Regions from separate parts of the Homo sapiens genome. Here region 2 is linked to region 1. Evidence: fine-mapped expression QTL. A gene starts in region 1. The other region holds a variant in brackets. All regions are shown on one strand. Distances are from middle to middle. Region 1 holds the start of PEX5L (peroxisomal biogenesis factor 5 like). Region 2 has its middle 38 kb from the start of PEX5L.

Region 1 (10,806 bases):
GACTATATTGTGTTTCTTATAGTAAGTATATAAACTATTGGCCAGTATGGCTGGGGAATGAGATTTTCAGATTAATCAAGTATTCTGCTAATGCATACCACAACTATTATAACTTTCAAGTGTTAAAAGCTCAACACTACATCCATACCAAACATGATTTGCATGTGAATATACAGGAAGACACTTCAGAATCTTGCTGGAGCTTGTGTCATAATTTTGATCAACAGCTTAAATGTACATGAATTTGCTTCAACAGAGTTCTAGTTAATATTTCATCATACTTATGCTCATCATTACCTATAAGATGACATTTGAGGAAGAAGACCAGGTGCCACTTGAACTGAGATAACAAAGGGGGAGAGGAAGGCAGCAGCAACCACTGACCAAAACAACACAACAAACCCCAGCACTGCTCACTCTCCTGAAAATGCCACCCCCGTTCCAACTCTAAACTAATCTCAAAGACTCGCCTCTGAAAATGTGTGTATGTGTGTGCGTGCAGGTGGTTTATTGCTATTAGTCATATCTTTGCTAGCAGTTAATGCCTTAGCAAAGGGTTAAGAAAGAAAGAACACAGGATGGAAAAGGGTGAGCCGGGAGCTGCGGTTCATGCCTGTAATCCTAGCACTGTGGGAGGCAAAGGCGCGTGGATCGCTTCAACTCAGGAGTTCAAGACCAGCCTGGACAACATGGTGAAACCCTGTCTCTACAAAAAATACAAAAATTATCTGGGCATGGTGGCATGCACCTGTAGTCCCAGCTACTTGGGAGACTGAGGTGGGAGAATTGCTTGAGCCAGGGAGGCATAGCAAGCAGTGAGCCGAGATTGGGCCACTGCACTCTAGCCTGGGGGACAGAGAAAGACCCTGTCTCAAGAATTAAAAAAGGTGGTACCAGGAGGGAAAAAAGTGGATCTGTTAGAGAGGTGGAAGTACCCATGATAAATATCATCTGCTTTACAGTTTTGCTGAGGGCCTCAATTATGATAACCTACTGTTTAGGGTATTGAAAACAACGTTCTACAGTCTTACCTTCAATTGGTTTCTTATGTATTTTGTTTCTAGTGAACCTAAATAAATCACCAGGGGCGAGATCTAATGTACTAACATAACTTAAATTACCTAAGCTATTCCCCTTTGTAGAGATTTTAAGAAAAATCTTAAGTAAAGTCATATAGAAAAACAAATGCAAAACTCCCCTGGGGGAAAACAAATGGCTACTTTTTGGGCTGTTAATAATCTTACAATTTTTGTCATTTAAATTTTCCTTAGTTTATGTCTTGTGAAGCTAGAGGGTGTGGAATGATTCCCCAGACAGCTTGAATAAGTCAAAAAGTCTGCTTTGAATGCCTAAAATAAAGATCAGTTACAATTACAAATAGATTTTTTGTTTGATTGCCTTCTGAAATAACTTTCTTTTATTAAAAAACCCATTGCTGTGGATTCTTCAATAACAATTCAAAAAATCTTAGTAGAAAATTGAAATTATATTTCTCTGTATTTATACCACCCCAGAAATAAAACAGCTAGGTTAAGAAAACATTGAGAGACATGTAATAATTTCCTCTAACTGGAAATGTTAACTCAAATGCACATAGGCAAATAATCACCTCAGCCCTGAACATACAGAGGTATTGGTGGAATTAAGACCATAGGCCCTCAATGAGCAACAGAGTTTTGTCAGAACCGATGCTAAAGTATATTCAATCATCATCAGTGCCCTTGGTCAAAAGAAAAAAATAAGTAAATCTAAAACAGTCACAAAAGAAGCAACCTTTGCTTCATTTACTGGGGTGACTAACTCCCCTTGGAAATAATTGGTAAGGCAGCTGGATAAAAACATAGCTCCAGGACCCTGCTCCTAAGAAATATACCTGCGGCTTTTACTATGAAACCAAGAAATATCTGTTACTCTATGCTCTATCTGTAATAGATGCCAACTTTTATTTTCTAATGAACTAGCAGAGCAAACCAAATGTGTGTTTTTAAAAGTCTGCGGTTTCTAAAATGAATTCAGATTCTACCATAAACCAGATGAATTAGCCATATGTATGAGAATTAATAGACTTTATCTGCAAAATCATTAAGTTGCAAAAACAAAGGCACCACAGGAGTTTTAAATTAGACTATTTTTAAGTCTTCCTGAGAACACCTGCCCCTACTTCAAACTGCTAATTTACAAAGCACTTTATTTTAAAGTCTCTTGGATACAGAAAAGAGAAGAATTAGAATGCATAGCAAAAGATTGCAAACATTTCTGTTTCACTCTTGTTTTAAGGTATCAGTCAAGTAACATTATGTTTCAAATTAACTCCAAAGCTGGCAGAAATGTTAGTAAATCTGCTTATCCCTGGTCCACTTTACCAAATATGGATTCAGATTTTAATCATACACATTTTGGAGTGTTTGGAATGTGTTTCTTCTTATCTGTGATTAGAGTCAGGTACACACAGGAAGATGATAGTATCTCTGATAAGGAAACGTTATTTTGTCCATAGGCTAAATAATATTCTTTGGGGGAAGAGATATGAGTTTAAAATGTAAGCCAACAAGTATATTATGAATCAATCTGTCATAGGTATTTTTTTGTTGGGGGGAGCAGATGCCCATTCAGATCATCATACTATTGAATAACTACTAAACGTACCTACTAAGGCCTCGGAAGTTTTATGCTTAACATTAATGGTTAATAGTAAGTAGGAAAAAAGTATTATGCTCTGAAATTTTGGTGGATGTATTGATTACAGTCTTTATTTAGTAATGTTTTAATTTAAGCTTGGCAGCAAAGATTTGTGAGTTTTACTGCAAGTCATCATATTTGCTGTTACAGCAGTGCACAAGCAAAAGACATTAAGTTGGGAGAATATGCAGAGTCTTATATTTTGTTTATTCTTTCAAAGTGAAATTAAACCCTCAGACATTGTTCCAGGCAACTCAAGTTTCAATAACATTCTCCTTTGAGATATTGAGAAAATTGAGTTAAAATTGTTTTTGGGTGCATGAATTTACCATATTGTTGCTTCGATTCTTCATTCACAGTAACATATTTTTTAAGCAACAAAACAATACTGTGCAAAGTTTTTGTTAATTTCCCCTTAGTGGTCAATTGTCAATTTTGTGTAAATGAACAATTTTTTGAGGGTTGACTCTATTAAAATCTTCCTGTTTTACCCTTGTGAAGAAACTGTTTAAAAAACAGATAATATATAAAATTGTAAGTATCATTCTTGGGTGAAGATGAAGCATAAAACTATAGTAATAATTCTTTGTTAATTTTTTCAGCAGTCATTATTTGAATTCTTCTATGTTACTTAACTTTTCAATTGGTGTAGCTTTTATAAGAAACATGCAGATCACATTGATCATATATAATATTTAAAAATATACTTCATTCACTACTTTTTGTCTATCAAATGTGATATAATCACATTAATAATTTTCAAAACAGGATGATGTTAGTCATACGGGAAATCTTTTGGAATTCTGGCACTGTATATTGAGAATTCTTATAAAAATTGAGACTATGATGAAATATTGTGTTTTATTTAAAAATGGATTATAGTCCAAAAGAATTTCCCTAAGTTATGGAAATTAAATCTGGGTAGTACTAAGTCATAAATATAACAACATATTTATCTATTTCCAATTGCTCTAAAAGACACAGAAGCAAAATCCTCAGTATTCATAAATGTTATACACCAGGATAAAGGCATCACACATAATGATTGTATTTGACCATCTTTGGAATGGAAAGGAAGCCCAAACATCAAACCTGATGACTAAACCATTTAGGTGCGATAAAGAGTCCAGTTCATACTTTAGAAAGCTGAGTTAGTATTTTATTTTTCTCCCAAAGCATATATCTGCCTTTATAAGAACCAACCAACCGTATGAATGAGAACTGGAGTCAAGGTTAAAGTAATCTTGCCCAAGAGAGTAGAGTGTGTTTGCATCGGAAAGAAGCAGCGGCTCAGCTCAGATGAATATTAATAACAACCGGAGGCAGCACCTCCCCTGAAAAACATTAGAGCTCCTTGGACATGTGTTTGAAATTCATCCTCCCAAGTCATCCTGTGACTATTGGAGTAGATGGCAATGTCCCATAATGTGAAGGGGGAAAATACACTATAAATCGTTTTTTAAATATAACACTTTAAAAAATGAAACGAAAGTGACAGAGTGTTCTAAGTCAAGCAACCTTTTCAGATGGTAAAGGAAAAGCTTTGTCTTTCCTATTATTGTTTGCCCTTCAGTTGACATACATGCTGAGATGCATCAATAGGATTACAACGGAAACACGGTCATCTCTAGGGTTTCCTCTGTTTCGATTCCTTGATCCTGTTTAAAGAAACAGGCTCAGGGAATGCACAGAAAACAAACTTCCCCAATCGAAGTTCTGAGGTCTTCCCTCCCCTTCTCCCACCTTCGGAAACCGGTCTAGTTTTCCCGGCAGCACCGGACAGAAATGTCACGGTCATGTTGCATCACTTCACTTGTTGAGCTGTGCGAAGGCAGCACTTGACCACAGAAACTTGGTGAACCGCCTTGCTCTTAAATTAGCCCCCAAGAATTCTCTCCAGCCCTATAGAAATGTCTTACCTGCATGTGTCCCTGGTACATTCTGCTTCGGTTTCTTCAGGGCTCCCTGAGGCCACCGGATGCTTTTCCCCCGTGCTTACTTGCCCACCAAAAGAGGGGAAAAGGTGGGTGCACAGCGGGTTCTCAGAGGGTGCTCCTGAGCCCCCTGGAGCTCCGGGTACTCGGCCGGCCGGCGGCCACTCGGCAGCGCTGCGGGCTGCCGGGAACTGTTCTCCGCTCGGGGTGCTGAAAGCGGACGCGGGAGAGCGCGCAGAGAAGGCGAGGAGCCGGGTCGGCCAGGCTCTCCTGCAGGCGCGGGTCCTGCTCGCGGGGCGTCTCTAGAACTCACTCCTTCTTCGCCGAACTCTTTCTCGCTTCCTGCCAGGTTGCCTCATGTCTCTCTCTCTCTGAGCTGCGAACCCCCTCCTCCCAGCCCTGACGTGAGCGCCTACACCAGCCGCCGCCGCAGCTGCCGAGCGGGGCGCGCGCCGTTCTCCCAGCCGCGTGCCTGCCGAGAGGCCGCGGGACCGGGCACGCGCGCGCGTTCCCAGGGGCCTGGGAGCGGCCCGAGGGCGGCCCCGGGCGGTGCGCGCTCCCCGAGCGCGTCCTCGGGGCTGCGCGCGCGCGGCGGCAAGGCGAGGTGCCGGCAGGCGGTGGTCGCGCTGGTGTACAACGCCCGCAGCAGCGCGGCGTTCAGGTGCGGCGTCGGCGGGCAGGGCGATTCTAGCGGAGAGGATGGCCGGCCGGAAGAAAGGCGGGAAGACATGCATCGTCTCTCCGGGGGCCATCCACCGCGGCTGAGCCTGTTATCCTACAGACATTATAGGCTGAGTGCAGGGGTTGCCGAAGAGTTTACTTCGGTTCTGATTCAGCTCTCGAAAGTTACGTCCGTATCACCCGTTAAATAAAGACTCCCCGCTCCCCTCATCCCCAGTTCATCGCCGAGCATTCTATTTAAAACGGCAAACCCTAGTCCCTGAGGATCTGGCATGTTTTATTTTTTTCCCTAGCACGTAACATCACCTAACATCCTTTATATTTTCCATATTTATTTTATGTACTGTCTGTCTCTCCCTCTGTACAATGTTATTTCCATGAGATCAGGGACTTTTTTTTAGGGGGGTGGAGTGTTGCACTTGGTTTTGCACGTGTGTGCACAGTAAGGTATTTAGTACTTCCTGACACATGGCAGGCACACAATAAATATTTGCTGAATGAATAGACCTTTACTACTATACACTTACACACACATACACACATATATGAAGAGTGCATTTAAATATGTCTCAAGTTGAGACTGGGTAGTTTGATGTGTCTACACAATAAATGTTCATATATACACACACACCACGGGGTGGTGTATACTGTGATTACCTAATTTTGTTGGTAAAAACATCTCCAATTCTACAGGCCCCTCATATTATGTACAGCATGATATCCCCAAAATATTGCATATAGCATAATATGCTTTTTATAAAGTTTAAAAAATCCCTAGAAATGTCAATGTGTATTCATATATTCATATACAACAATATAAAAAGGAAAGCAGTGGAACAATGAATATAGTGTTCAGAGTGTTGGTGACCCTGGGTGAAGGGAGGCAGGGAAATAGATGGGGAAGCATTTCACTTGAAGTTTAGATGTTAATGTCTTATCTTCTATGCCGGGTAGTGATTCATAGGACACCTAATATCCTATTAAAAATTACTGTGTAACTAAATAAAATAGAACCATGTATGGACTAATGAGGAGAATGTGAAATGAACAAAAGGATGTGAAATGAACCAATTCAATGCATCTGAGGTCCTAAAACAACCAACCAAACAAACACAAAAGGACTAAGACCTGTAAGCAGGAGACATGGATTCCTATTAGATTCCACTAGTAGTTACCCTTGGACAATTTCCTTTTACTACTTTGGACATCAGTTTTTTCATGTCTAAACTCTGTATAAAAAACTTATTTTTTTTACCCTGAAAATAGAGATATGTTCATAAGCACTGTAAACTGTAAAATGTCATCCAGTTCTTATTTTATTGTTCTTTATAGGACAAAGCACAGGACTTGGAGTCAGCAACAAGAGGTGCTAGTTCCATCTCACTACCTCAATGCTCTCTTGGGCAAGTGTACCAACTCTCTATTTCCTCAATTTTGAAATAAGACAAATATCTACCTAGTGTGCTGCACAGAGCTGCTGAGGACTGAATGTATGCAAAGGAAGTTGTAAATTACCAACCATGATATATGAATATGCAAACAGACTTTTTTTTCCCAGTTCAGAAAAGATGAGGACTGATTTTCTGAGACCTCAAGTACTGCAGATTTTAAAATGGTACTAATTATCATATAATACTATCATGTTATATAAAAACTGGGAAAAGTATAGTGCTTTGATTTAAAAGTACTAGAAATCTGTGAAGTAACAATAGGGTCAAAGTTTTCCAATCCATTATATGCTTGTTATTATCTAACGGCAGGTTCAAGGAGCCAACAACCATAAAAGCATTTGGATCAGAATGGCAACTGCCTAGTGTTGAAGCTAGAACTCAATATATTCTCTTCTTAAACCTGAGTCACTGATTTCGTTACTGCCTACATTCTCAAAATCTCAGGAGTGAAAGCTTTCCTTTGTGAAGAATTCCTCTTCACACTTATTCCTTCTGTTAGAAGATAAACTAAGGCACATTAAAATTTTAAAGGGTTTTTTGAGCAAATAGCCATTCATGCATCAGGCAGCAGCAGACCGAAAGCAGTTGGGGACTCTGTCGGAAGTCGTTAAAGGGAAAGATTTTATAGGGTAAATGTGGAAGCAGAGCAAAGAAATTATTTGGTTAAAGAGGAATACTGGATTTATTTGGATCATTCTAATGGAAAGTCCATAGTTAGAGGTTAGTTTGTGGTTTCTGATTGGTTAAGCTTAACTTTCACTTTCCTAGACTATTTCTTAGACTAGGAATGAGATTTGAATTATCTTTATTTTCCTCAGAAACAATGCATGTCTAATAAGCTAGGTCCAGAAAAATATTTTACAAAAGATTTATTTTGTAATTAAATTTGAAGACCCTTGTTACTCAAAACGTGGTGTGTGGACCAGCAACATCAGCATGTCCTGGGAGCTTGTAAGAAATGCAGACTCTTGGGTGCCATTTCTGACCTACTGAATTAGAATATGCGTTTCAACAAGATCCCCAGGTGCTTGTATGCACCATAAAATTTGACCAGCACTGTGGCCTAGAAGGTTTATTTATTCATGTAAATATGTGGCAAAGCTAGCTCTTGCCTTTTGCAGTGATAACACATGAGCAACCTCAGTACCACTAGAGAAGAAGAATGCATATTGCACTCCATTTATAAAATAATCTCACTGTATTTTGAGTGGTCAGTGGACTTGGCATAAAATCATAGCACATTCAGCTTTCTTACAGCAAGAAATGTGCTTAGTACCACTGCAATTTTAATCACTGTAATACAATTAAATAATTGAGAGGTAGCAGTAGAATCTATTTTGTATTGACAAAATTTAATTTTGCTTATTAGTAAGCGAATCCTCCTGCATTTCAAATGGGTATTGAAAATTCAGGATTTATTAAATCTTTGAAAAAACTTAGTAAAAATGATGAGGTTAGTGTTCTTGTGGACTTAAAAATCAGAGATAAGAGTCTTTTGATGATTCAATCATTCTTTCATAATCTGTAGAATTCAAACTCTGGTGCTGAAAGATGGTGCAGGAGAGAACAAAAGTCAAAATAATTGTAGACCAAAATTAAAATGACTAATTGGTATTTGTTGTTCAATCAGAAGGAGGAACATTTTGTTAAAGTTTGCCCACTTACCCTTTTTGTCTCTTCGACACATAGAATGAGATTAGCTGGTGTTTCAGGGCATTTGATCTGGAAAAAATTTGGGAACCCCAGGCTGCCAGGAAGAATTATGAATAATAAGAGTATGTGGACTCTGATGACGAGGAGATGGCAGCAATGTTCTTCCAAATGAACAAACAAGCTGGATGCTTCAGAGCTGGGCCTCCTATTAAACCAATTTAAGAAATTACACTATATTTGTTTACTCTTTAGGACAATGTTTTTTCAGTGATCCAATATTGCTTTTAATATTAAGTGTACTTTCTAGAGTTTCTTATTCCTGGTGAGAAAACATTTGTGAACAAAAATATTTCTTGCTTTTGACTACTCCTTTCTACTGTTGCCACTGCCATCCTAGCCCAGATTCCCTAAACCTCTTATCACTTAAAGCTAGTTTTATCACCTCCGTTCATCTCCTACATCAACCTGTCATATACATCGCAGCCAGATTAATTTTATAAAGGTCAGCATTAATCACAATGCTGCTCAGGTCAGAAATCTTTAGTGGCTTTCCATTGCCCACTAATGTCCCAAAACTTCAGCTTTTTATTCACAGTCATGGAATATCGTTTGCTGCCCAGAGCAACATCCTCTTCTAGTGGCAGGAAGCCTCTTTTCTCAAGGCTCTTTGCTTTGAATAACCATCTCTTCCTCACTCTGGTCCACTTGTGTGGTAGGAAACATTTTACTACCAGGCTTTGGGGTTGCAACATAGCACCCAGGCTGAGCCAACCAGTGCATTCCGTCCCCATTGGTCACAGTTGGAGATGGGCATATTACCCACGTCAGTCAATCAGGGAAATGAACTCAGCTCCAGGACTACTCGGGAGCAGATTGATTCTTCCTCTGGACTGGATGTTCTACTGATGTTAGCTTGGAACTGCCAGAATCCAGCACACCAACTCTGAAAAGAAAACCAACCTGGGGGAATAATAATCCAGGCAGGCTCCAGGAGACAAAATTTGAGCCACTAAATAAACCACACTTAAAAGCTAGTCTAAAGTAATCTTTATTTCAGCTAGTGCCATCTCTTTTCTGGTTTACTGGATTTTTGGTCACTTGCAACCAAAAGAATACTTATGAATACAGTGGCTTTCCATAGACTGACCCTGTCTTTTTTCAGTTCTGTATGTTCTCTACCTTTTGCAATAACCCTGCTTTTTAATTATTCCCCAAAGTCAGCCCAAGTTATACTCATACTCTTGCCTCTTCTTGGAATGTACTCTCTCTCCCCACTCCTCTTGAATAAAAGCTCATTCATTTATCAAATTTGGTTTCCAATTCCATTTCCTTCCTGAAGCCTTTCTTCATCCTCTAACTGAATACTTCTCTTTGCTGGGAACTTCTTTATGATACGCCAAATGACATTTTTTTAAATTATAGTTTTTCTTTTTTTGTTGTTTTGGAGACAAACAACAAACTGCCGTCTATTGTTTAGACGGCAGTGCGGTGGCATGATCATAGTTCACTGTAGCCTCAAACTCCTTGGCTCAAGTGATCTTCCTGCCTCAGCTTCCTGAGTTGCTGAAACTACAGGCATGCACCACCATGCCTGGCTAATTTTTTTAAAAACCTTTTTTGTAGAGTTAGGGTCTTTTTATGTTGCTCAGGGTAGTCTTGAATTCCTGGCCTCAAGGGAGCCTTGTGACTCATCCTCCCAAAGTGCTGGAATTACAGGTGTGAGCCACTACACCAGGCCCCCAAAATTTTTCTTTTGTTTAGTTATTTCTGTGCTTTTTAACTCTCTATTAGACGTAGGCAGATGTAGAGACAAGAACCTTGTTTTATTCCTTTTTATTCTTAAATAACTTATGAATCATGTATGCAGAAATACCGCCCAAGGTAATTTATAGATTCAATGCCATCCCCATCAAGCTACCAATGACTTTCTTCACAGAATTGGAAAAAACTACTTTAAAGTTCATATGGAACCAAAAAAGAGCCCGCATCGCCAAGTCAATCCTAAGTCAAAAGAACAAAGCTGGAGGCATCACACTACCTGACTTCAAACTATACTACAAGGCTACAGTAACCAAAACAGCATGGTACTGGTACCAAAACAGAGATATAGATCAATGGAACAGAACAGAGCCCTCAGAAGTAATGCCACATATCTACAACTATCTGATTTTTGACAAACCTGAGAAAAACAAGCAATGGGGAAAGGATTCCCTATTTAATAAATGGTGCTGGGGAAACTGGCTAGCCATATGTAGAAAGCTGAAACTGGATCCCTTCCTTACACCTTATACAAAAATTAATTCAAGAGGGATTAAAGACTTAAACGTTAGACCTAAAACCATAAATACCCTAGAAGAAAACCTAGGCATTACCATTCAGGACATAGGCATGGGCAAGGACTTCATGTC
Region 2 (10,806 bases), 38 kb after region 1:
TCAGCAGCTAAGTGCTGCTCTTACTAATGAGAATAAACTCTTAGCTGTTTTAAAGCAGGACTCTTTAGCATAAAATACTTGGGTCAGAAGTCTTTACCACCACCATAGCTCAGCTAAGCCCTCAGAGATGACCTCTAATGCAGCCAGGAATGAAAGAACATCTTTTCTCTGGCTTATTTCTGTGGGCCAACCTGGACTTACTCTGTGGATTGAGCCCTGGTTTCAAAGTCTGAGCAGAGTCTGGGAAAAATGAAGTCTGGCTGTGTGCTAAAGTCTGGCTGTGTGGCATTAGATTCACCACTTGGCCGTATCACTTACTGGCTCTTTGACTTTGGGCAAGTCCATCACTTTCACTTGGTTTTAGCTCCTCTGGAAAATAAATATAATCATACCCTACCTATTTCATCAGGGTATTGTAAAATCCATGAGATAATACCTCATCATGGTTTAAGTTCCTGGCATTTCAGCATGCAGGCAATGAAAATTTCTCCTTATGATCCCAGCTCCTTACATCCCTAATTGTATCTGTCTTTTGCCCTGTCCCCCTATTACTTCTTACCAGGTGTGAATTGGGGCAAGGGAGAAAAAAATGATTTGTTCAGACATATAAATACACAACAAAGTATTAGTCAGTGCATCAAGCTAAATACTTTAAGCTAGCAATGATTCGTTTATGTATTTATTCATTCATTTGATAAATATCTATTAGCCACCTACTAGTAAAATATATTTAATTTTGTTTTATAATATTTGTATTAAAGATAATATATATTTTTGGATGAGTGAGTAAAAAGATGATTAAGTATAAATCCAATGTATTGAGACTCTAGATGGTAGCAGCAGCTGCGTGGCTGAGTAAGGACATAAGCCGGGTCTGTGGAAATGTTATAGAAGTTGGTCTAAAGAAAGGTTATATACAGAAAGACTATTTGAACAACAAAGGACTTATTAAATTGAATTCATGTTCAAGGGGAAATTATGCTTGAGCCATGAATGACAACCTGTCAATCAAAGTAAGTTTCAATATCCAGGGTAGGAGGGAGGGAAATATTTAGCTCCCTTCTTTCCACATCAGATCTGCCCCCGCTTTCCACCCTTTTCTTCACTCACTTACTTGCTTGCCCTCTAAAAGATGCAGAGTGGCAACTTGCTTCATGGTGGTCTTTTAAGAAATGAACCTGCATTCTACTTCCTGTTTCCTACTTTAAAGTGAAAACGAGGTCAAAACAGAGTTTGGCTCTTCGAAACTAGCCAAGGCAAATTAACTCTAACATTTCTTTCTGTCTCTTCCATACATTTAGTTATTTGGATAAGGTAAGCTGGACCTTTACCCCTTCAACTTCCTTCTGTTTCATGATCAGTTAGATGTGGTAAGATCCCAGGATTTAGATTTGGAGGAACTAACACCTTTTAGTCCTTGAGCCTCTAAGTAGTGTGGAATCTACCTTTTACCAGTGCTTGTATGAATTTAGTTCTGTAGTATAATAGGAAATCACACTAATAACTAGAATCAAATGCACTCTTCCCCTCAAAAAGGATAATATGGGAAGAATTCCAAAAAATAAAACTTGGGAAAGGCTCTATAGTAAAATATAGTTGCCCAAATATCTCTTTATTTCATTGGGTTTGTCTAGGCAAGTTGAACATTTCTGGTCCAGAATCTTTAGTTAATCCCAACTAAGATACAATGAAGAAGTAAGACCTCAGAACTACTGTATTAGAGTTTGTGGATAAATGTAGAGTTATAACAGCCAGTATAAGTATGAGCAAAGACTGGGATCATTACCTTGAATAAAATGGTATGATTTTTCACAGAGCTTCTAGAGCAGTTTCTAAAATAAATATGGAGAAGATAGAAGAGCCAAGAATAGCCAAAAGATTTTAAAAACAAAGAGTATGAGGGGATGTCAATCATTACTGCATACCTCCGTACTTATTAAAAGAGGAAGAATATCACTGAAAAGGCTCTTAATAACATAACATCTGGCTTATAAAAATCCTGAGTTAGGAAGGACATTCCTTACCTCTTAGATTTATATACATAGGTCCACGAACTCCTTGATTGCATACACCCCATTATTAATATTTCATGAATCTTCCAGATTCATTCATTCACAAATATTTATTGATCACTGCCTATGTGCCCAGTATTTTGCTAGTTGCAGGGAACTGATTGCTAGTTGCAAGATAAACTATTCTTCCTTGCTTTCCTCAAGCAAATCTCCAACATTGAAGTGAATTACCTAATGTGATAAAAACAGTAAGTGGCAGTGTGCGGTCTTCTAACTCTAAACCCAATCTTTGAGGTAAACAAGGTTGAGAATTAGGAGAGATCTAGCAGACGGTATTTTAAAAGATAGAATAAAACTCTGGGGGAAGAGTTTATTAGCAAAGACACTTAGGCCTGGACATGTGGGAGGGTTTCAGTGAGGGGGGTAGGAGATATCAAAAACACACTCTCTTCCTTTTGGGATAAAAATACTCTAAAACTAATTATGGTGATGTTAGCACTACTCAGTAAAGTTGCCAAAAATCATCAAATTGGACACTTAAAATAGATGAATTTTATAATATGTAAAATGTAACTCAATAAAGCTGTTAAAATATTTTTTTTTAGCTGTGACATGAAAAAAGCTTGGAAGTCATCACTCCCACACTCAAAATGGTAAAAACATTGAACAAACTGAAAATCAATGACATTTCTTAAGTCCATCAAAGAAGTAAGGTTACAGGGCAAACTACCTCCCCACTGCCCTCTAAATCTGGAAAGACTGGCAAATACAAAGAATCAGAGCCAAGATCAGTTTACCTGAAGCAGAAGCCACCAGAACAATAAATGGGTAGAAACACTTGTATGGTAATTTTGAGGAATTTCTGGAAGCTGAGTGTACTAGCTTGAGGTTTAAACTCTTAAAGGTCTAGTCCCTATGGAAGCCAATACTTTGCAGATTTACCTCCTGGAGCTTCACCAGGTTCTTTTCTTGAGGATCAGAGAAAAATTTCTATCTGTATTTGGAGAAGAGGGAGGGGAAGAGTAACCATTTTGAATATACTCAGAATTCCTCCATAACAAAAGCCTACCCTCCCAGGGGAGGAGGTGGAGCAATATGGTGGAATAGAAGGGCTCCAGCAATCATCCCCCACTCATCACAAAGACACAATTTAAGAACTGTTCACACACAAAAAAGCACCCTCATAAGAAAAAAAAACTCGGTGACCACTCAAAGTACCTGGTTTTAACTTGATATTGCTGAAAGAGGCACTGAAGAGGTAGCATTAACAGTCTTAAATTGCTGATGACACTGCCCCCCACATCCTAGCAGTGGTGGCGTGGTATGGACAGCATTTCTGGGTGCTGGGGGAGGGAGAGCAAAGCAATTGTGAGACATTGAACTCAGTACTGTCTTGTTATAGCAGAAGGAAAAACTGGAACAAATTCAGCTAACACCTGCCCACGGAGGAAGCATTTAAACCAGCCCAAGCCAGAGGGGAACTGCCCATTCAGCTGTTGGAACTTGAGTTCCCACAAGCCTCGCCACCATGGGCTAAAGTGCTATGGGGCCCAAAATGAACTTGAAAGGCAGTCCAGGCCACAAGGACTGCAACTCTTACGTGAGTCCTAGTTCTGAACTGGGCCCAGAGATAGTGGACTGGTGGGGACATATGACCTACTGAAACACCAGTTGGAGTGGCTAAGGGAGTGCTGGCATCATCCCTCCCCTAACCTCAGGCTGCATAGCCAGTGGCTCCAAAAGAGAATTCTTCCTTCTGCTTGAGGGGAGGAGAGGGAAGAGTGGGAAGAACTTGTTCTTCCATCTTGGATACCAGCTGAGTCACAGCATGTTAGGGGATGAGTCAAAGACATGAGGCTTTAACTCCCAGACAACTTTTCCAGACACATTCTGGGCCAGAAGGGAACATACTGCTTTGAAGGATCTAGTTCTTGCAGAATTAATTACCTGCTAACTGAAGAGCTCTTGGGCCTGGAATAATTAGCAGTGATACCCACATCAAATGCCTTGGATAAGACTCAGACTTGCTGGCTTCAGGTGAGACTATGCACATTCCAAGCTGTGGTAGCTACAGGGCAAGCCCCCTTCTGCTTGAGAAAGCAGAAAGAAAAGTAAAGAGGACTTTGTCTTACACCTTAGGTACCACCTCGGCCACAAGGATGTAGAGTACCAAGTGGGCTCTTGGGGTCCCTGATTCCAATATTTGGCCTTGGATGGCATTTATATACCTGCCCTGGGCCAGAGGGGAGTGTATTGCCCGGAAGGGTGGGTCCCAGGCCAAGCAGCATTTGCCGCAAGCTGACTGAAGAGCCCATGGGCCTTAAGGGAACATTGGCGGAAGTCTGGCAGTATTTCCAATGAGCCTGTGGTGGCAGCGGCTATGTAATGAGGTTCCTCTGCCTTTGGAAAGGGGAGGGAATAGTGAGAAAGACTGCATTTTGTGGTTTGAATGCCAGCTTAGCCGCAGTACAATAGAACACCAGGTAGACTTCTAAGGTTTTTGATGCTAGTTCCTGGCTCCCTGACAGCACCTCTGGATCTGCCTGGAGCCTGGAGGAACACATTGCCCTGAAAGGAAGGACATAGGGCTGGCTGGCTTTACTACCTGCTGATTTTAGAGGCCCAGGGCCTTGAGCAAACACAGGCAGTAGCCAGGGGATGGTTACAGCAGGCCTTGGGTGAGACCCAGTACTCTGCTGGCTTCAGGTCTGACCCAGTACAGTTATAGTGGTGGTGGTCTTGGGGTGCTTGTGTCACTTCACTCCCAGCTTCAGATGGCTCAGAACAGTGAGCCATCTCAGAACAAGACTACTTCAAGACATTTAATAATCAAACTCCTAAAGATCAAGGATAAAAAAAGAAACCTAACAGCAGCAAGAGAAAACAAATAACATGTGAATGGAGCTCCAATACATGTAAACAGCAGACTTTTCAGTGGAAACCTTACAGGCCAGAAGAGAGTGGCATGACATATTTAAAGCACTGGAGGAAAAAAATAATTTACCCTACAATAGTATATTCAGCAGAAATGCTCTTCAAACATGAAGAAAAAATACTTTCCCAGACAAAAAAAAAAAAAAAAAAAAATGCTGAGGGATTTCATCAACACTAGACCTATCCTACAAGAAATGCTAAAAGGAATACTTCAATCAGAAAGAAAAGGATCCCAGCACTTTGGGAGGTCGAGACGGGCAGATCACGAGGTCAGGAGATCGAGACCATCCTAGCTAACACCGTGAAACCCCGTCTCTACTAAAAATACAAAAAAAACTAGCTGGGCGTGGGCGTGGTGGCAGGCGCCTGTAGTCCCAGCTACCCGGGAGGCTGAGGCAGGAGAATGGCGTAAACCCAGGAGGCGGAGCTTGCAGTGAGCCAAGATTGCACCACTGCACTCCAGCCCGAGGGACGGAGCGAGACTCCACCTCAAAAAAAAAAAAAAAAAGAAACAAAGAAAGAAAAGGATATGCAGAATAATGAACCTAGACCCCCATCTCTCACTCTATACAAAAATCAAATGAAAATAGATTAAAGACTTAAATCTAATACCTCAAACTATGAAACTACTATAAGAAATCACTGGCAGAAATCTTCAGTACGTTGGTCTGAACAAAGATTTCTTGAGTTATACCTCACAAGCACAGGCTACCAAAGCAAAACTGGACAAATGGGATCACATCAAGTGGAAAAGCTTCTGCACAGTAAAGGAAACAATCAACAAAGTGAAGAGACAACCCACAAAATGAGAGAAAATATTTGCAAACTACCCTTCTGACAAAGGATCAATAACCAGAATATGTAAGGAGTTCAAATAACTCTATAGAAAAAAAACTGATAATCTAATCAAAAAACGGACAAAAGATTTAGATAGACATTTCTCCAAAGAAGGCATACAAATGGCAAAC[A/G]GATATATGAAAAAGTTCCCAACATTACTGATCATCAGAGAAATACAAGTCAAAACCACAATGAGATATTATCAAGTTATAATGGCTTATATCCAGAGACAGCCAATTACCAATGCTGATGAGGATGTGGAGAAAAGGGAGCCCTTGCACACTGTTGGTGGGAATGTAAATTAGTGCAACCACTATGGATAACAGTTTGGAGATTCCTCAAAAAATAAAAATAAAAATAGATCCATATGATCCAACCATCTCATTATTGAGTATATATCTAAAAGAAAGGAAATCAGTATATTGAAGGGATATCTGCACTCTAATGTTTGTTACAGCACTGTTCACAACAGCCCAGATTTGGAAATAATCTAAGTGTCCATCAACAGATGAATGGATAAAGAAAATCTGATACATATACACAATGGAATACTATTCAGCCACAAAAAGAATAAGATCCTGTCATTTGCAACAATATGAATGGAACTGAAGGTTATTGTGTTAAGTGAAATAAGCCAGGCACATAAAGACAAACATCACATATTCTTACCTATTTGTGGGATCTAAAGATAAAAATGATTGGAATTATGAAGACAGACATTAGGAGGTTTGTTCCTAGAGCCTGGGAAGGATAGTCGGGGGGTGTGGGGGGAGGTGGTGATGGTTAATGAATACAAAAATATAGTTAGAAAGAATAAATAAAACCTACTATTTGATAGCACAACAGGGTGACTATAGTCAATAATAATTTCATTGTACATTTAAAAATAACTAAAAGAGTATAATTGGATTGTTTGTAACCCAAAGGATAAATGCTTGAGAAGGTGGATACCCCATTCTCCATGATGTGATTATTACTCATTACATGACTGTATCAACCATCTCATGTATCCCATAAATATATATACCTACTACGTATTTACAAAAATAAAAAATTATGAAAAGAAAAAAATATCCTGCCATGCAAGGGGAACTACATTACCAGAGTCTTACCTGATGTAGGGGAGGGGCAATTGGCCAGATCTAGCCCTCTCTATCCTCCCTGCTACAGATAAGAGGACAAGGGGGAAGAAAAAAGACTAGTCCCTGAGAAAACTTAACACCAAGAAAAGACAGCTCTCATTCAGTATTAACAGGTGATTAGTTCCTAGAACCTTTTCACCTGTGGATACCAAAATCCAGGGACACTTGAGTTCTTCAAAATATAAAATTGTATGGTATTTGCATATAACCTACGTACTTCTTCCTGTATATTTTAAATCATTTCTAGATTACTTACAATACTGAACACAATGTAAATGCTACGTAAATATAGTTGTTATACTGTATTTCTCCTTGAGATAAATCTTGCTATGTTGCCTAGGTTAGCCTTGGACTCCTGGGCTCAAGTTTTCCTCCTGCCTTTGGGTCCTGAGTAGCTGGAACTGTAGTCATATGCCACTGCATCTGGCTTGTTTATAAATTTGTATTATTTTAAATTATTTTGAATATTTCAATTGAAAATTGGTTGACTCTACAGATACAGAACCTGTGACTACAGAGGGCCAACTGTACTGCTGAAGGTCACAGCCCAGGAACCCAAGCTGAACACCAAAAATGAGATCTTATCATAAGATTATAGAAAGCTTCTCATCAATAACACTTTACTATCTGTATTAGTCTATTCTCACATTGCTATAAAGAAGTACCTGAGACTGGGTAATTTATAAAGAACAGAAGTTTAATTGACTTACACTTCTACAGGCTGTACAGGAAGCATGGCTGAGAGGCCTCAGGAAACTTACAATCATGGTGGAAGGGTGGAGGCAAAGCAAGCATGTCTTCACATGGTGGCAGGAGAGAGAGAGAGAGAGAGAGACAGAGAGAGACAGAGAGAGACAGAGACCAAGAGAGCAAAGGGGCAAGTGCTACACACTTTCAAACAACCAGATCTCATAAGAACTCTATTTTGAGAACTCCAAGGGGGAATTCCGCCCCCATGATTCTATCACCTCCCACCAGCCCCCTCCTTCAACACTAGGAATTACAATTTGACATAAGATTTGGGTGGGGTCACAGAGCCAAACCATATCATTCCACCCCGGCCCCTCCCAAATCTCATGTACCTCTCACATTTCAAAACACAATCATGCCTTCCCAACAGTCTCCTAAAGTCTTAAGTTGTTCTATCATTAACTCAAAAGTCCAAGTCCAAAGTCTCATTTGAGACAAGGCAAGTCCCTTCTGCCAATGAATCTGTAAAATCAAAAACAAGTTGGTTACTTCCAAGATACAATGAGGGTATAGGCACTAGGTAAGACCAAAAGGGAGAAATTGGCCAAAACAAAGAGGCTACAGGTGCCATGCAAGTCTGAAACCTGGCAGGGCAGTTATTAAATCTTAGAGCTCCAAAATAATCTCCTTTGACTCCATGTCTCACATCCAAGTCACATTGACACAAAGGGTGGGCAGCTTCACCCCTGCAGCTCTGCAGGGTACAGCCTTCGTGACTGCTTTCATGGGCTGGTGTTGAGTGCCTGCAGCTTTTTCAGGTGCACATTGCAAGATGTCAGTGGATCTACTATTCTGGGATCTGAAGGATGCTAGCCCTCTTCTCATAGCTCCACTAGGCAGGCCCCAGTGGGAAATTGTGTGGGGGCTTCAACCCTCTATTTCCCCTCTGCAGTGCCCTAGAAGAGGTTTTCCACAAGGGCTCTGCCCCTGCAGCAGACTTCTGCCTGTACATCTAGGCATTTCCATACATCCTCTGAAATCTAGGCAGAGGTTCCCACACATCACCTCTTGCCTTTTGCACACCTGCAGGCCCAGCACCACGTGGAAGCTGCCAAGGCTTGGGGCTTTCACCCTCTGAAGTCATGGCCTGAGCTGTACCTTGGCATCTTTTAGCCATGGCTGGAGCTGGAGCAGCTGAGATGCAGGACACCATGTCCTGAGGCTGTGCAGAGCAGCTGAGTCCTGGGCCTGGCCCGTGAAACCATATTTTCCCTCCTAGGCCTCTAGGCCTGTGATGGGAGGGGCTGCTGTGAAGGTCTCTGAAATGCCCTGGAGACATTTTCCCCATTGTCTTCACTATTAACATTTGGCTCCTCTTTATTTATGCAAATTTCTTCAGCAAGCTTGACTTTCTCCCCAGGAAATGGGTTTTTCTTTTCTACCACATGGCCAGGCAGCAAATTTTCCAAACTTTTATATTCTGCTTCCATTTTAAATATAAGTTCTCTTTGCTTATGCAAATGAGCTAGGCTTTTAGAGCAACCAGGCCACATCTTGAATGCTTTGCTACTTAGAAATTTCTTCTGCCAGGTACCCTAAATCATCTCTCTTGTGTTCAAAATTTTAGAGATCCCTGGAGCAGGGGCACAATACTGTCAGTCTCTTTGCTAAAGCATAGCAAGTGTGACCTTTGCTCTAGTTCCCAATAAGTTTTTCATCTCCATCTGATACCACCCGGCCTGGACTTCAGTGTTCATATCACTATCAACATTTTGGTCACAATCATTCAACACGTCTCTGGGAAGTTCCAAACTTTCCCACATCTTCCTGTCTTCTTCTGACCCCTCCAAACTGTTCCAGCCTCTGCCTATTACCCAGTTCCAAAGTTGATTTCACATTTTCAGGTATCTTTATAGCAATGCCCCACTTCTCTTATACCAATTTTCTGTATTAGTTCATTCTCACACTGCTATAAAGAAGTACCTGAGACTGGGTAATTTATAAAGAAAAGAGGTTTGACTCACACTTCCACATGCTGTACTGGAAGCATGGCTGGGAGGCCTCAGGAAACTTAGAATCATGGTGGAAGGGTGGAGGGGAAGCAAGTATGTCTTCACATGGTGGCAGAAAAGAGAGAGAGCATGAAGAGGAAAGTGCTACACACTTTAAAACAACCATATCTTGTGAGAATTCTATCATGAAAACAGCAAGGGAGAAGTTTACCCTCATAATTCTATCATCTCCCACCAGGCCCCTCCTTCAACATGGGAAATTACAATTCAACATGAGATTTGGGTGGGAACACAGAGCGAACCCATATCACTATCACATCAGCAAAGCTGCAGTATAGTATCAGTGGATTACAATGAAGAGAGGTACAATACACAAACTCAACTTAAGAAGGAATCCTTAGGTAAGCACAAAGACAAGAGGGGAATAAAACACACACACAAAAACTAGAGGCAACTAAAATCTCTGGTATCTACAGCCACAGTAAATAAACATTAAATACAGTGGAGTGCCTAGTTAGATTACCATAAAACCTCACACCAAAAGCCTAATCACCCCTGTTCCTATTACCCAATACATTATGTCTGGCTTTCAACAAAAAGTTACAAGGCATGCTCAAAGCCAAGAAAAAATATAGTCTGAAGAGACAAAGTAAGCATCAGAAATAGACTTAGATATAGCACAGATTTTGGAATTATCAGATGGTGAATTTAAAATAACTATGATTAATATATTAAAGAACTTGAAGAAAAAGTTGACAACATACAAGAACAGGTGAAGAATATAAGCAAAGAGATGGAAACTTTGGGAATTAAAAGAAATGCGAAGAACTAAAATCTTGTAAAAGAAATAAAGAATGCCATTAATGAGCTTATCAGCAGACTAGACATTGCCAAGGCAAGAATAAATAAACTTGAGATATGTTAATAAAAACTTCCCAAACTGAAACGTAAACATCGTTTAAAAAGAACAAATATGAATATCTTAATAAACTAGGAATATTGGAGAACATTTTCAACTTGATTAAAAATAGCTATAAAAAATCTATAACAAATATCATAATGCTGAGACACTCAAAGCTTTCCCACCAAGGAACAACATCCCCTTTTACCACTGCGATTTTAGTATCATACTGGAAGTTTTAGCTAATGCAATAAGACAGGAAACAGAAAAAAAGGTAT

The links. PIP is the estimated chance that this variant, and not a neighbour inherited with it, causes the effect.
Region 2: its variant is fine-mapped to the expression of PEX5L in spinal cord (GTEx, PIP 0.97).

The regions. Positions count from the first base shown.
Region 1 is chr3:180,031,981-180,042,786 of GRCh38, forward strand. It overlaps PEX5L (peroxisomal biogenesis factor 5 like), which reads right to left and starts at 4,957. Exons shown (of 15, transcript NM_016559.3): 1 at 4,599-4,957. The coding sequence starts at 4,619. RefSeq lists a silencer at 5,023-5,072.
Region 2 is chr3:180,069,922-180,080,727 of GRCh38, forward strand. No RefSeq gene overlaps it. Among named protein-coding and RNA genes, the nearest start is that of PEX5L, 38 kb to the left of the region's middle. RefSeq lists enhancers at 3,414-4,079, 8,756-9,280. The variant A/G (reference allele first, on the strand shown) is at 5,915.